Regions from separate parts of the Homo sapiens genome. Here regions 1, 3 and 4 are each reported to be linked to region 2. Evidence: microRNA targets listed by miRTarBase, many of them from high-throughput screens and not tested one by one. Region 2 holds a microRNA gene; each other region holds the end of a gene's coding sequence.
What was found. Region 2 holds the annotated microRNA hsa-miR-579-3p (UUCAUUUGGUAUAAACCGCGAUU, at 1,758-1,780, shown strand). A microRNA usually pairs through its seed, bases 2 to 8, with sites in the 3' UTR of a target mRNA and lowers its output. Matches are read on the target gene's strand: a 7mer-m8 pairs with bases 2 to 8, a 7mer-A1 pairs with bases 2 to 7 and ends in A, and an 8mer does both.

Region 1: miRTarBase lists TMEM72 as a target of hsa-miR-579-3p. Seed matches in the 3' UTR shown: 7mer-A1 at 2,534-2,540 and 7mer-m8 at 2,002-2,008.
Region 3: the mRNA of FANCF is a reported target of hsa-miR-579-3p. Seed matches in the 3' UTR shown: 7mer-A1 at 360-366, 7mer-A1 at 876-882, 7mer-A1 at 1,389-1,395 and 7mer-A1 at 2,374-2,380.
Region 4: miRTarBase lists STARD7 as a target of hsa-miR-579-3p. Seed matches in the 3' UTR shown: 7mer-m8 at 3,306-3,312.

Annotation. Positions count from the first base shown.
Region 1 is chr10:44,934,557-44,938,556 of GRCh38, reverse strand. It overlaps TMEM72 (transmembrane protein 72), which reads right to left. Exons shown (of 5, transcript NM_001123376.3): 5 at 1,547-3,901. The coding sequence ends at 3,423. The region is part of intron 1 of TMEM72-AS1 (TMEM72 antisense RNA 1); the gene reads left to right. Among named protein-coding and RNA genes, the nearest start is that of TMEM72-AS1, 23 kb to the left of the region's middle. RefSeq lists an enhancer at 2,682-2,976.
Region 2 is chr5:32,392,172-32,396,171 of GRCh38, reverse strand. MIR579 (microRNA 579) reads left to right here and starts at 1,697; the gene lies at 1,697-1,794. ZFR (zinc finger RNA binding protein) reads left to right here. Exons shown (of 20, transcript NM_016107.5): 11 at 868-1,013.
Region 3 is chr11:22,621,002-22,625,001 of GRCh38, reverse strand. It overlaps FANCF (FA complementation group F), which reads left to right. Exons shown (of 1, transcript NM_022725.4): 1 at 1-2,469. The coding sequence ends at 316. Among named protein-coding and RNA genes, the nearest start is that of FANCF, 2.8 kb to the left of the region's middle. RefSeq lists enhancers at 70-119, 130-289.
Region 4 is chr2:96,182,993-96,186,992 of GRCh38, forward strand. It overlaps STARD7 (StAR related lipid transfer domain containing 7), which reads right to left. Exons shown (of 8, transcript NM_020151.4): 8 at 1,867-3,922. The coding sequence ends at 3,738. Among named protein-coding and RNA genes, the nearest start is that of STARD7-AS1, 23 kb to the right of the region's middle.

The sequences.
Region 1 (4,000 bases), not on the chromosome of region 2:
TGGTGCACGCCTGTAGTCCCAGCTACTCAGGAGGCTGAGGCAGGAGCATCGCTTGAACCCTGGGGGCAGAGGATGCAGTGAGCCAAGATCACACCACTGCACTCCAGCCTGGTGACAAAAGGAGACTCCATGTATTAAAAAAAAAAAATCTACTAGAAACTGTTTAGCTGTACACTTTTTTTTAATTTAAAAATTTTTTAAAGATTATTTTGAGACAGGGTCTCACTCAGTTGCCCAGGCTGGAGTGCAGTGGAATGATCTCAGCTCACTGCAGCCTTGACCTCCTGGGCTCAAACCATTCTTCCATCTTTGCCTCTTGAGTAGCTGGAACTATACGTGTGTGCCACCATGCCTGGCTAATTTTTTGTACTTTTGGTAGGAACAGGGTTTTGCTATGTTGCCCAGGCTGGTCTCAAATTCCTGGGCTCAAGTGATCCACTCGCCTTGGACTCCCAAAGTGCTTGGATTACAGGCATGAGCCACTGTGCCTGGCCTAGCTGTACACTTTAAATTGGTGAATTTTATGTTATATGAATTATATCTCAATAAAGATATTTCAGAAAACTAACAACAAAAAACCACCTTAGGGCTGATGGGAGAGGGAGACAGAGGACCCACGGTGTGACCCCCAGGGTGCAGCTGCTAGGAAATGTGGGGTCCACTATGACTTTCCTCTGAGGTAGGCATTGGGGGCTGTACCCTCCCCAGGCTCTAGCCCTGGAACCTGGAGTGGAGACAGGAGCTCTTGGACCTGAACTGGCCTTGCCACAGACGCAAGTCAGGGTGGTGCTTCCTCAGTGCCCCCTCACGGCGAGTCCCCCGTAGGGATAGGGATGTAGTGCAATCACAGTGACTTGTTTGTAGTTCTGAAAAGCACTTGCCCATGTCTTGTTGAGTTACTGCTGTGATTTGCACTTAATAGGGGAACCTGAGCCAGAGATGCGAAGGGGCTTGAACAAGGTCAGACGTGTATTAGTGGAGGTCGAATGGTGCTCAGCCTGGTGCTCTTTCTTCTTCCTGTCACTCTGTTCTTCATATACAAAATGCTCCCCTCTCTGCTGAGGTAGGGAGGGGGATCATGGCAGGGCCAGTCCTTCTAGTCTTTGCTTCTTGGCAAGGATGCAGATCATTACAACATCTGCTTTGCAGGGATTCTTCTGGACAAGGATGTGGTCATAGAGGTCACAGGCTGAGAATCAATGGAGACACGTGGTGCTCATCTGCTTATGAGGAAGATGCCACTTTCTTGCTTGGTCCACTGATGGGTGAGAATTCTGGCCTATTTAATGATCTCACTCCAGCTTTTTGTTTTTGTTTTGTAGCCATAAGAGTGTTTGAGAACTTTACTAACCTAGGTAAGATCATAATTGTCCTGTAATGCTGCACACCAGCAGACACTCTCTTAACTGATGACAATCTCCAGGAAGCCTATGTGCCTCAGAATTCCATCGCATCATCACTGGAACTCCCGGCACACACTAAGACACCTCCAAAAGGGTGCTCCCAACACACATCTCTAAAACACACCCAAAACAACACTCCACACTTGGGTTTACTGAAGTGTTTATTAAACGGGATCTGACATCTCTGCCATCACACTTTCTGGTTTGCTTCTTGCGATCTGGTCATCCAGCTCTGCTGACTGGGGCTTCGAGGACAGAACTACTCTGATGCAGAGGAACGTCAGAGGCTGGCCATGTCTGTGCCATGAGGGTGTCTGTGGCCATCACATTCCCCTTCCACAGTTGACAGGGGAAAGATGCCTGGCTTCTCTGCACTTAGGCTCTTTCTGTGCACAGGGGGCCTGCCTGAGACACCCGGCCCATCAGCCATGGGGCACGATCCTTGTCTACCACCTACCTATACCCATATCCCATATTGTTCACTATTCCCTGACTGTAGACAGTCAGGTCCTGAGGTCCTGCCTTGATGGCAGCTGAAGAAACAGCTCTGCAGCTCTCACCATCAAGGGCTTGCAGGAGTGTCTTGATTAGCCATTTGTCATTTGGTGAGACCTGGGCTACTGCAGGAAGAGCTCTGCTTATCTGCTTATCAGGAACACCTGCTGCATTTAGGCCCCAAACTGATACTAGCTTCTGGTTGGCCATTATTTTCATACCTTTGTAAAATATCCTGTAGGGAACATTGAAACGTGTGCAAGCACAAACACAAGTTTCTCATTAGACCATAGAGCATGCACTCTAAGGCTTGTTCTACAGAGCTTTGCGTTAGCCTCCACAGGGACTGAGAAGCCACAGGACTCTTCCTCCTGACTGCTCCCTCACTGCAGTTGCCATGAAGAATGGTGTGTGTGCTCTTCCTGGCAACAGCCTCATGGACCCGACAACAATTTTTAGAAGTAAAGCCTATATTGCAAATCCTTTACAGATTTACAAAGGAATATCTGATTCAGATGTCTTTGTTCCTTCTGGGTTAACTGTCACTTCCGTGGCCCCATGGCAGAGAACTTGCCTGCCTGCCCACTTCCTCCTATCCTCCCATTTTCCCTCCTCTTCTTCCCCCCTCACTTCCTTTCATTTTGAAGACATTTATATTTATCACCTATTCTGCTACCAAGTGCCTAAACACGGCACTGACACTTCTCTGTGCTGTGCCACCCCTGGGCAGCCTCTGTGGTCCTGCCCACAGCAGACATTGCCTTCTGGGCCCTGGCATTCACTGCGTTCAGTTTGCATCATCAACCTGGAATCTTGGAAAGGCCATGTGGTAAGGAGGCTGGAAGTCCCCAGCCATGTTTCTGGAATGAGCTTTGCTCATCTGGCCTGGCTTTCCCACAGTGAGCACAGAGCGGCATTGTTTTCCTGAGCAGCTCAGCCCCAGCCCTAGAGCATGCAGAGAATGTGGCCCACGGCCCGGCTGCTCCCACCAGAGGCCTGCAGCCTCCCCTCCCGACCCTGAGCAGTCTTGGTTGGTCAAGACCCACAGCCACCTTCTCTGCCTTAGAGATGCTTAAGTTACTGACACTTCCCTGGGCCTGCAGAGATGGGTGGACCATAGGTTCCTCACTGAGTGTTGTGCCCTGGGTTGGGAGTAAGAAAAGCCCAGAGGCTTTTGCTGGGCAGACATCCTCTGTCCCTTCTGGGCTGAGTCAATGGCACCTGCAGCCTCGTGCGCAGTGGCAGTGATGGTCTTGTTGGGGAAGCATAAGGGTTTCCCCACCTGTGGCCAGGAGGAAGGAGCTTGTGCTGGCTTGAGGTGGCGTGAGCCTTGTTTGTGCCTCCCTCGAGGCCTCTCCAGAAATGCTGGCCAGTCACACCTCCTGATGGCCTCAGGGGCCCAGCCAGTGTGGGGGTGTCTGGTTACCCCTTGAAAAGCTGACCAGAGAAGACCCTGAAACTCCAGGGAGGGCCATTGAGCTAGGTAGACCCCTCACTGAGCGTCCTCCAGGCTGGAGCAAGCGCTCAGAACAGGCCGGTGGCTGTAAGAGATGACAGGAAGAGTGGGGCCTGGGGAGGGGGAATGATGGGTGTCGTGTCAGAGGTGGTCTCCTCTGGCTCACTGTCCCCATCATCCAGACCTTCGGCGAGGGAGGGGACTATGCGGACCAAGTTGTCTTCAAAGTGCACCTGCTTCTTCTTGGCCAGGGAGTCGGCTGGCTCCAGGCTCAGCTCCATCAGGGTGTTGGGGGGCTGGAGGGCACTGGGCTTCTTAGTCCCCTTCAGGATACTCTTCATGTGGATGAAAAGGGAGCTGGGCCCCTCCTTGAGGGCCCCATGGAAAGTGTAGGTTTGCTCTGTGTCCCCAGAGCCGGTGGTGCTCACAGCGCTGCTAGAGGGGTCTGTGTACTGCTCTGGGGAGGCCAGCACCTCGGGGGCAGCTTTCCTCTTCTTCCGCTTGCTCAGAAGGAAGTAGGCCAGGCCGGTGATGATGAGCATGGAGCCTGGAAAAGAGCCAGAGGTCAGGGCTCTAGAGGAGTCACGGAAAAAATCCGGAGTCCTTGCAAGCATGTCGTGCAGCAGAGCTCCTGCAACCCGGCGCT
Region 2 (4,000 bases):
ACATGAACATGGCTCACTGCAACCTCCCGGGCTCCAGTGATCCTCCCACCGCAGCCTCCCAAGTAACTGGGACTACAGGCATGTGCCACCATGCCTGGCTAGCTTTTGTATTTTTCTAGAGAACGTTTCACCATGTTGGCCGGGCTAGTCTGAAACTCCTGGCCTCAAGTGATCTGCCTTCCTTGGCCTCCCAAAGTGCTGGGACTCCAGGCTGCTTATAACTTTTGACTCCCTAAAAACTTCTAAAAGCCTACTAATGACCAGAAGCCTTACTGATAACATAAACAGTTATTTTTATGTTAACACATTTTTGGTATGTCATGTATCTCATATATACTGTATTCTTAGAATAAAGTAAGCTAGAGAAGAGAAAATATTATTGAGAAAATATGAAAATCAAAATATTTACTATTCATTAAGTGGAAGTGGGTCATCATATAAAGGTCTTCATCCTCATCATCTTCAAGTTGAGTAGGCTGAGGAAGAAGAGGAGGGGTTGGTCTTACTCTCTCAGGGGTGGCAGAGGGAGAAGAAACTCAGCAGCATAGATGTAAGTGTATTCATATACTTCAAACCCCTGTTGTTCAAGGGTCAAATGTAAAGTAAAATTAAATATCCATTAGTTTTTCTAAGGATTTCATGACTTTTTGTTGGTCAGCACTAAGTTACATACTTTTTACATAATTTTTATTAATGTATTTTGAATCTTTTCTCTGATTTACCTTAATTATATTGATTTTACTCTCTAGTGGGAAACTTGCAACTAAAAGCCTCCGTGATTAAAGAATAAGTGTAATTGTATGATTAAAAATACATGTAGATTGTTTTGGGGCTGCTGTTTTTTAAATGTCTTATTTATATTAATAGAAAAAAGTAAATCCAGATTTGCAAGTAGAAGTAAAGCCTAGTATTCGAGCAAGAAAGATTCAAGAAGAGAAAATGAGGAAGCAAATGCAGAAGGAGGAGTACTGGCGAAGACGAGAAGAAGAGGAGCGTTGGAGAATGGAAATGAGGTAATATCTTTAACTTTTAATAGCCTGGTAAGTGGTTCAGCCTTTCTTAAAAACTTAGCCATTCTGAGCATGTGACTCCCATTCAAAGCAATCCAGATTTATTTACTTCCAATTTTCACTCTTGAGGAAGATCCTAGGTCTAGGAAAGACATGCATTAAAATTGTTACTGGCTATACTAATATTTTACTGTGGCCTTGGTATTAGAGTTATATGTTTAAGTGGCATCTTTTATAAATTAAACATATGAAGAAATAGTTTCATATTATAAATAAGTGCCTCGGTTTCAAACAAGCAAAATAGACATACATTTCCTGATAGAAGTATAAGATTTGATAGATTCTACATGTTAATAATGTCCATAAAGAAACTTTAGTGGCTACAGGGAAGGAGAATTGAGAAAACATATTTCAAATATTTGTTTATATATATATAAAGATACAAATGTTAAGTTTTATTGAAATATAACATATCTTCTAAACTTATACAGTGACAGAGTTGTGTAACAATCACCACAATCAATTTAGAACAGTTCATCACCCTCAAAAGAAATCACGTACCCATTAACAATAATTCCCCATGTGTCCCACATACCTAGTATCTCCCCCAGCCCCAGCCCTGGACAACCTCTAACCTTTCTGTCTCTATAGATTTGCCTATTCTAGAGATTTCATATAAATGGAGTCATATTAGGTTAATGCAAAAGTAATCGCGGTTTGTGCCAGATGACGATTTGAATTAATAAATTCATTTGGTATAAACCGCGATTATTTTTGCATCAACTTACTACAGTCTATGGTCTTTTGTGTCTGGCATCGTTCACTTAGCGTGTTTTCATGGTTCATCCAGATTGTAACATGTTTCAGTATTCCATTGTCTTTTATGACTAAATAATACTGAATAATACATCCTTATGTACCACATTTTGTTTATTCGTTCATTAGTTGATGGACATGCAACTTGTTTCCACATTTTGACTATTATGAGTATTGCTGCTGTGAATATTTTTGTATAACTTTTAAAATACAGTTTTAGCAGAAACATACCATACACGTATTTTCATAATCCACTTTTTTCATTTACATACCTTCAACTTTAAAAACTAAATTCGGATTATTTTGTTTTTCATGAGGACATAGTAATTTTTGTGCATATGTAAAATTTTCTTCATAACCAATCCTTGTTGTTATTGTTTAGATATTTAGGTAGTTTCCAGTGTTTCCTTATTATAGTTATTAATATCTTGACCCTCCTTGAGGCACTTTTTTGTTTCTTTCACCAAGTATGTGAACCTATTGAGGCGATATTACTGCATACATTATCGTTAGTTGCTAATAATAGAATATGGGAAATGGAAATGTTTGAAGGATGCTCACATGTCTGCCTATACTGGATAGCATAACTCAGTGGTTCTCAAACTTTTTGGTCTCAGGATCCTTTATCCTCAATTATCAAGGACTCCAAAGAGTCCTTATGTGGGTTATACCTGTCAAGACTTACTGTATTAAAAATTAAAACTGGCCGGGCACAGTTGCTCATACCTGTAATCCCAACACTTTGGGAGGCTGAGGTGGGTGGATCACCTGAGGTCGGGATTCAAGACCAGCCTGACCAACATGGAGAAATTCCCATCTCTACTAAAAATACAAAATTAGCCGGCGTGGTGGCGCATGCCTGTAATTCCGGCTACTCAGGAGGCTGAGGCAGGAGAATTGCTTGAACCCGGGAAGAGGAGGTTGCGGTGAGGCGAGATCGCGCCATTATACTCCAGCCTGGGCAACAAGAACAAAACTCCGTCTCAAAAAAAAAAAAAAATTTAAAACTAAGAAATTTAAATATTTGTTAATTCATTTTAAAATGACATTTTAATTATTTTTTGAAATATGGTTACATGTATATTTGTTAAAATATTACACGATATATTTAATCAATAAAATACAGTAAAAAAATTATTCCACAGAATAGTGGGAAAAGTTATGCTATTTTACATTTTTGTACATCTCTTTAATGTCTGGTTTTAACAGAAGGCAGCAAGATTCTCATGTTTGCTTTTGTGTTCATATGTGGTGAATAACACATGTTGCCTCTGGATAATTTCACTGTACATTTAGAATGAAAGAGCAAGTAAGTGTCTTTAGTATTTATTATGAAAATAATTTTTTTTTTTAAACAGAGTCTCACTGTGTTGCCGAGGCTGGAGTGCAATGGCACGATCTTGGCTCACTGCACTCTCCACCTCCTGAGTTTAAGTGATTCTCTTGCCTCAGCCTCCCAAGTAGTTGGGATTACAGGCACCTGCCATCACGCCTGGCTAATTTTTGCATTTTTAGTAGGGATGGGCTTTCACCAGGTTGACCAGGCTGGTCTCAAACTCCTGGCCTCAAGTGATCTGCCCGCCTCGGTCTCCCAAAGTGCTGGAATTACATGTATGAGCCACCACGACTGGCCTTATTGTGAAAATAATTTTGACCCCATGGATCTCCTGAAAGGGTCTCCGGGACCACTTGGTGTCCCTGAATTGCACCTGGAGAACCCCTGCTACAGCTTAATAAAATCTCTACCAATTAAATGTGATAGCCATTTTGTTTCAGTTTGAATTGTTTTCATGTTTGGCTATTTATACTTCTTTTGTGGTAAATTGCTTGTTTTTTCTTATGTGTTGATTTGTACAGACGTTTCTTACGTTGTTATTATTAATAATCCTTTTTATGGGTTACCTTTAAATAGTTTTTACTATTATGTATGTGTTGGTTTTAATTTTTACACATTTATCAGTTATGTCCTTTATGAAGTTTCTGCCTTTGTAACATATTGGGAATTCTCTTCTATAGCTAGATTATACAGTGCTTTCCTCTTTCACTGATAATACCAACTATTAAGCATCCACAGTGTGCCAGGAACTGTATTAGGTAGTGAGCACAAATTGGTAAACAATGGATAAAGGTCCCTGCCCTTATTTGACTTAAACGTTGTTAGCAACAACAGTAAA
Region 3 (4,000 bases), not on the chromosome of region 2:
GTCTCCTGTCTATCTGGGTCTGCTAACAGACTGGGGTCAACGTTTGCACTATGACCTTCAGAAAGGCATTTGGGTTGGAACTGAGTCCCAAGATGTGCCCTGGGAGGAGTTGCACAATAGGTTTCAAAGCCTCTGTCAGGCCCCTCCACCTCTGAAAGATAAAGTTCTAACTGCCCTGGAGACCTGTAAAGCGCAGGATGGAGATTTTGAAGTACCTGGTCTTAGCATCTGGACAGACCTCTTATTAGCTCTTCGTAGTGGTGCATTTAGGAAAAGACAAGTTTTGGGTCTCAGCGCAGGCCTCAGTTCTGTATAGGCAATGCTGTGTTATTACTTGAATATAGAATATATAGTTTACAAAATGAAAATTACAATGTTCTCACCAAATATATGCCTTCGTGTGTCCAAAGTATAATTATTTTAGATGCTAATTTTGAATAGTTTATTAAACAGTTATAAATATGCAAAGTAGCTGGCATGTAGTGTCACGGATTTTCTGGATAGAGGAAGTGATTGGAAGTACTCCACTTAAAGCCATGGAATTAGCAATAGTTTGCTTTTTAATAGAAGGCCCATTTGTAAGAATGTTGAAAATATGTGTACCGTTTAAAGAAAAAGCAGCTTTAAAGTGACAAACAAAATACCCTTTTTCTTTTAGTATGGTTTATTTTTCTAGGTTTTCTGTCCCTCCCTCAGTAGTGAAGAGTTTTCTTTATTCCTGGCAGTGTCAGGAATATTGGTTTGAAAAGCTGTTGGCCTATCTGGAGTTTGGCCTTGTTAACCTAGTATTCTAACCAGTTAACCAGCCTTAGTATGCATTAAAATTGTATTGTTCAGAAAGTTTGTTTCTCATTTTCTGCAAATTCTTACTTTGAAAATGAATCACCACATAGTATGTCCCTTTAAAGCATTGACGCACAGACAAATGTTTAAAGCACAGTAAATACGAATATATGCCTTTGGATATTAAATTAATGCTTGATGATAAAAGAATCAAACTTTTTTTTTTTTGAGATGGAGTCTCGCTCTGTCACCCAGACTGGAGTGCAGTGGTGTGATCACTGCTCAGTGCAACCTCTGCCTCCCAGGATCAAGCAATTCTGACTCAGCCTCCCAAGTAGCTGGGATTACAGGCGCAGGCCACCATGCCCGGCTAATTTTTTGTATTTTTAGTAGAGACGGGGTTTCACCATGCTGGCCAGGCTGGTCTCAAACACCTGACCTTGTGATCCGTCCGCCTTGGCCTCCCAAAGTGCTGGGATTACAGGCGTGAGCCACCGCGCCTGGCCAAAACAACATTTTAAGTAGAAGATCCAGGTTTTAGTGCAGCTTCTGCCGTTAACTAGGTTAATAAATCACAACCTTGGGGCCACAGTTGCCTTATATGTAAATGAAGTGTTTAGAATAAAATAGTTAAATTTCCTTATTTTTCCCTTGGTGGCTGCCCTGTGGAAACAGTTTAGAATATTTGTTTTGTGTGTAGGAACCTAGTTGTGTTAGTTTACCTGGGTGTTCCACAGCTGATAGTGATTGCCTTGAATAAATTCAAGGGCAATTTATTCATTTTTACTAGGGAGATAGACCTTTACAGCAATCAAGATATTTTTGTCCATATCCAGGTTAGCTGGTAAGAGGATTTTTTTGGAGAAAAAAATGATATTTAGAAAGTTAATTTCTAATTCCGGAATGGAATAAAAACAATATGAGTAGTGTAATCTTGTAGAAAAAGAGTTGTATAATCTTGTAGAATTTCTCATTCTGTGGTACAACCCAGGGGTAAACTATTATTCCAGTAGTCAGTACACTTTTCTAGATAAATCTTGAGTGAAAACCAGCAATTTCTTTTTCCTTGTGGTCTGATTCCTTTTTCTAATCCATGAAGGCCATCTTGTAGATTACATTTATCATTAATGCAAGAATAAAGACAATTCCTCCTGTCAGTTGCGTGAATTTTTTTTAAGAAACAACCCAGTGAAGAGTTCTACCATAGCAAGGCCTAATGTTAGCTTTAGCTTTAGAAAATAACAGTTTGTGAACTTACTTCCCTATATTTGCAGCTGTATCTCACACTATGATTTACAATAAAATTGTAAAGATTGACAATAGACTTAAGAAATAACATTTTAAAATCTATTTTATACTTACCATTTATTATTCTGTTATTTTAGTCTCCATATGTTCATTACATACATAATCTTATTTAATCTTCACACCAAAACTGTATTCTTATGAATATACGCTAAAAGATTAAGTAAAATGCCCAAGGGTATAAACAAAAGCAACATGAAAGTGGAAGCCGTATCTGTCATTTATTTTATTTCCAGAAGCCTAGCACAGTGTCCAGCATATGGTAGATACTTGTAGTGTTTGAATAAATGAAACCAGCATTAGAGCTTTATATACTTTCTCTTAAGGACTTGAAAAGATTAGGAATCTACGCATACACTGAGAGAGAAAAAAGTGAGAGGAAGACTATAAAAATAGAATATTTGATAACTTCTTTATAAAATCTAGAGATATTTATTTTGTGTTTTTTCCCTATGTCCTATCAAATGAGGGAGCACTATTGAAATCTCCCATTGTAACATTGTTTCAGGAAATTTTATCAATTATCATCTTATGTATTTTGAGCAATTTTATGACATGCAAACAAATATAGAATCGTTATATCATCTTAATGAATTGAACCTTTTGTTTGTAGTGACTGCTTTTCTGCTTTAAAGTCTATTTTTTTCTATTATCATTGTCATATATTAACACTGTATGATTGGACTTTTTCCTGCTATCCTATTTTGTGCTTTCCACTTCCTTTGATTTCTCTATGTTTCACTTCTCAGTTCTTTAATTGACTAAATATTTGTTTGTCTTCTTATTTCATGATATTTTCCCCTCTACCAGTTAGGATGTTAATTCTATACCCATGCTTTTACTCTCAAAACTTACCATATTTAACTTAAAAATATCTAATATTAGTATCTTAACCCTCCTTCTTAATGATACTATGGACCTTAGGAAACTTTAACCCTGATCTCTTATCTATAAACTCTCAAGTTATTATCCAGTGTTTTGGTTTAACAATTTTGTTTCCCATGATTGTACCTCAAATTCCCTTGGAGAAGGTCTCTTGGTGGTAAACTCAGTTTTTATTTACTAAGATCGTTCCTTGTTGTTGTTGGAAGGTAGTTTTGCTGTGTTCCTGATTTCAGGTTAACATGTTAAAGATATTAACTCTTTTCTGGTTTTCATTGTTGATAAGAAAGCTATTCGTCTACTTGTGGTTATTTTGTAGAGTGATTTCTTCTTTCTGTTTATTTTAAGGTGGTCCCGATTTCAGTATCTATAGTCACTTCAGAATATCTAATTGTAAATTTCTGTTTTTCTTGCTTGTTTTATGTTGTGTTTCATTTATGTGTGGATATGTGTTTTTCTTCATTCTGAAAAATTTCCAGCCATTTTTCCCCAATATTTCCTTTCTTCCACTTTTTAAAAATCATTCCTGTCACTTTGATCGGGCCTATATTAGATCTTAGATCTTCTCACACTACTCATATCATGTAACCGCTCTGTCCCAGTTTCTATCTCCATATCATTCTATTTTGCTTTGGAAATTGCTGTTATATCCCAAGATCAATATTCCCCATCTTCATTTTAGCCTACCACCAGGTTTTAGCTGAAAATGGCCACCCAGATAGAGAGTAAATTTCCCAATTTCTCCTACAGTTACATGTGGCGATAATGCTAGGTTTTGGTTACTTTTATATAAGCAGAAGTGATATGTACAACTTAATATTCATTCCCTAGAAATCTGAAGTTATTTGCCCTTAATACTCTGCTTCTCCCTTTTAATGGGCTAGAAAGTTAATTTGCTGCTAGTTTGCTGCTACCTTGAATCATATGGCTGAAGATGACTGGGACAATTGCTGTAGACCCAAAGATGAAGTCACATGTACAGAATGGCAAAACAGAGCCCACCTACCTAGCTTGTCCTGTTAATATAGGA
Region 4 (4,000 bases), not on the chromosome of region 2:
AATTGGCAGGGCGTGGTGGCAGGCACCTGTAATCCAAACTACTTGGGAGGCTGAGGCAGAATAGCTTGAACCCAGGAGGCAGAGGTTGCAGTGAGCTGAAATCGAGCCACTGTACTCCAGCCCGGTCAACAGTCCGAGACTCTGTCTCGGGAAAAAAAAAAAAAAAAAGCTTTAAAATTTTATCACCAGTGTAGTTTTGTGTATCTAACACCACAGTTGACTGTGGTGGTAGACCAGCATCGCAAGGGATCCCTGGTGTTGCTCTGGTTTGTTGTTTGGTTTTTCGAGTTTCGCTCGTTGCCCAGGCTGGAGTGCAATGGTGTGATCTTGGCTCACTGAAACCTCTGCCTCCCGGGTTCAAGCAAATCTCTCGCCTCAGCCTCCTGAGTAGCTGGGATTACAGGTACCCACCACTGTGTCCAGCTAATTTTTTTGTATTTTTAGTAGAGACGGGGTTTCACCATATTGCCCTGGTTGGTCTCAACCTCCTGACCTCGGGCGATCCGCCTGCCTCGGCTTCCCAAAGTGTCAGGATTACAGGTGTGAGCCACCCTGCCTGGTCTATGTGGTTTTTTTTTTTTCTTTAAGACAGAGTCTTGCTCTGTCACCTGGGCTGGAGTGCAGTGTCGTGATCTTGGCTCACCGCAACCTCTGCCTCCTGGGTTCAAGTGATTCTCCTGCCTCAGCCTCCTAAGTAGCTGGGATTACAGGCATGCACAACCACACCCAGCTAATTTTGTATTTTTAGAAGAGACGGGGTTTCTCTATGTTGGTCAGGCTGGTCTTGAACTCCCGATCTCAGGTGATCCACCAGCCTCGGCCCCCGAAAGTTACAGGCATGAGTCACTGCGCCCGGCCATTTCTAAATCAATCTTCCATTTCTAAAATTTTGTCACTTAAAAATGTTATAGGCCGGGCACGGTGGCTCACGCCTGTAATCCCAACACTTTGGGAGGCCAAGGTGGGTGGATCACTTAAGGCCAGGAGTTCGAGACCAGCCTGGCTAACATGGTGAAAGCCCATCTCTACTAAAAATACAAAAATTAGCCAGGTTTGGTGGCACACACCTGTAGTCCCAGATACTAGGGAGGCTGAGACAGGAGAATTGCTCGAACCCGGGAGGTAGAGGTTGCAGTGAGCCGAGGTCTCGTCACTGGACTCCAGCCTAGGCGAGAGTGAGACTCCGTCTCAAAAAAAAAAAAATTAGAGAGGTAAAACACAAATGAGGTTGAAAGAGAATAAAGAGCAGAGTGTGAGGCAGAGCCAGGATGGCCGATGGAAGGGCTGCGGCTTGCAAGCATGAGATGGGGCGTGCGGTTCTCTGGAATCAGATGGTACACCACACAGGGACGTGTGCCTTGTGTGTTCCTATGCAGCTCAGTTCAACTGGGTGTGCTTTTGTGTTCACCTAGTGCTTCCCACAGGCAAAATTACACATAAACTCATGTTATGCTCAGAGCATGCCAGCAGGACTGCCCCTCCGCCAAGAGCGCTGACTTGACCCTCTCCTCAACCTCAACCCTAGACCTCAGGCCTGCTTCTGTCCCTCCTGATTTCTACCGTCTGCTAAGCTCTAGCACTGCTCCCTCCAAAGTGATCTTTTTTTAAAGGGAAAGGATATGGGTCAGTATATCAAGCTAGGGAAGTGGACATAGGTGGTTTATTTTCAGTTGCCAAGCAGGTCACTTGGAAAGGGCTCGTGGTCTAGGCAAACTGTGTCAGCCACTATCTACCAAGAATGAACAAGCCCTGCCACTTCCACCTCCCAACTCTCAGAGTAAAATTCTTTTCAACTTTGTGATCAGAAAGAAATGGTAAGTCCAATATGCAAGATTTTTCCACCACCATTTGTCCAAAGACAAACACTTTTTTTTGTACCAATCTTTATGTATTTATTCACACATTTGATAAAAATGTCACAGTTAGGAGTGAAATCATTACAATGACATGAGTAACTGTACAGACAGACCCCAAGTGCAGAATCAAATTGCCCTAAGTCAGAACATGGAGCAACCGCAACTCCTTCGCACTTGTGCATGTGTGTGCGCTCGCAGACGCACACACACACACACATATTCTCTCTCTCTCTTATGCACACATCCATCCACATCCCAACAATTGCAGGTGCTAAGTTTGGACATAACCCAGGGACTCTTCCCTGACTTCTGTCAGGTCCTGGAAAGAAGAAGTAATAAATGAAAAGCAGCTGGGACTGCTCGATGCATCTCTCCTCTTCCAACAATGACGCGGAGAAGGCAAGACATACACTGGGGCAGCTACTTCCTTGGCACAAAAATGAACAGGCAACAAGAAGGTCAAGGAAGTGTTTAAGTTAGTCTCAGGTTTAAACCACTTTTCAACACCACAAAACAGTAGCAAGCAGGAAAACAAAAACAAAAACAAAAACAAAAACTCTGGCCCTCAAGACTCCAGAAAAAAGGGAAGGAGGAGGATTTAAAACTTGATCCCTATTATTCTAACAAATTGCAGCATGACCATAAGCAAAACCAGCTCGGTCAAACTGACAGCATCAGATTGTGACCTTATCTGAACAGTGTAGTTCACTTTTATTTTGGCTCTGAAGAGAGGAAGAAAAACTTTTTAGAGGAACTTAATGGTAACATAAACCAAATCTCCACTGTATTAGTATTTGAGACAAGATTACATCTATGCATTCACACAGCTTGTCTGTAGATCTGAGAGCTCCAAGGGAGTGGCCCAGCCCCCATTCCTCTGACTTTAGCCTTCTGAAAAGAACAAGTCAAACCTGAAATATGAAAAATAATACCTGAATCAAAATGGTGTTTTCTATACAATCGGACTAGGGTAGAATCCTGCTCAATTCCTCAACTCCTATTTGACACAAAAGTTAAAAAATTTTTAAACTAAATTTAAATGTGATGTTTTGAGCATCAAAAAGCTACTATCTAAAAGGATTAGTCTCCCAGTGTTCTTGGTAAATGGGGAAGGTTAGGAAGGAGGCAATGATCCAATGAATATAGAAGAACTGGCCGATTCACAGGAAACTTGCTTTGGATAAGGTGAGTCAATGGGTGATATTGTGCAGGCAGGGAGGGAAATTTCTTTGTACAAATTCATGTCCCTGGCCAGGCATGGCCCAGGAGTTCAAGACCAGCCTGGGAAACAGAGTGAAACTCCATCTCTACTTAAAAAAAAAAAAAATTAATAATAACTTCATGTCTCTAGAGATAAAAGCAAGGTGCGGACAAGGCACTTAACATAGCCAAGTATCGTTCACACCCATTCACATCATGATTGTTACCAAGAGCACTCCCAGTAGCCCCTCATTTGAGAGACTCAACTGGCCAACTATACTTTCCAGGTGGACCTGGAGAACTGAAGGAAATCCAAAGCGCTGCACAATCGATGGTGGGATTTGGAATGTCAGCAGAGGAAACTACTCAGAGAAGCAAATGGAGGTCATCCCCTTCTGGCCTGAGGTGAGAGGTTTGTTCCAGATTAGCTCAGTGAGATACCGAATTTCAAAACAGTTGGCCTGAGAATATGACAACACTCCCACAAATGTAGCCTTCTTCTGTTTTGATAAGAGCAATAAGGGCTCTGAATGAAATGGGACATCAGTTATTGAATTATCTTGCACTGGAAGTTACAGCAGATGCCTTCTAATACATGTGGCATGTCCCCCTTCTACAGCAGAGTGATAACGGACTGAGACAGGGCTAGAAGCACCTTGTCCCTTCTTATCCCAAAGCCTGTCAAGCATACTCAATCCGAGCAGGGCCACAGCTGCCCTCGTTCTTTCGCTCAGAGGACTGGCTGGTGGCCTTGGCTTCACTACTCATTTCCAGAGGCTTAGCTGAGATGTAGTCCTTTACTTTAATCTCCATATTCTTGGCTTTCAGAGTGGCCATGTGCAGCTTCTCCAGGAAATCTGGCATGCCTGTCAGGAGACGAGAATCAGGTTAAGCTGACATACAAACCAACAGTAGGCTCAAAATGAGAAGACCCTATTTCTTTG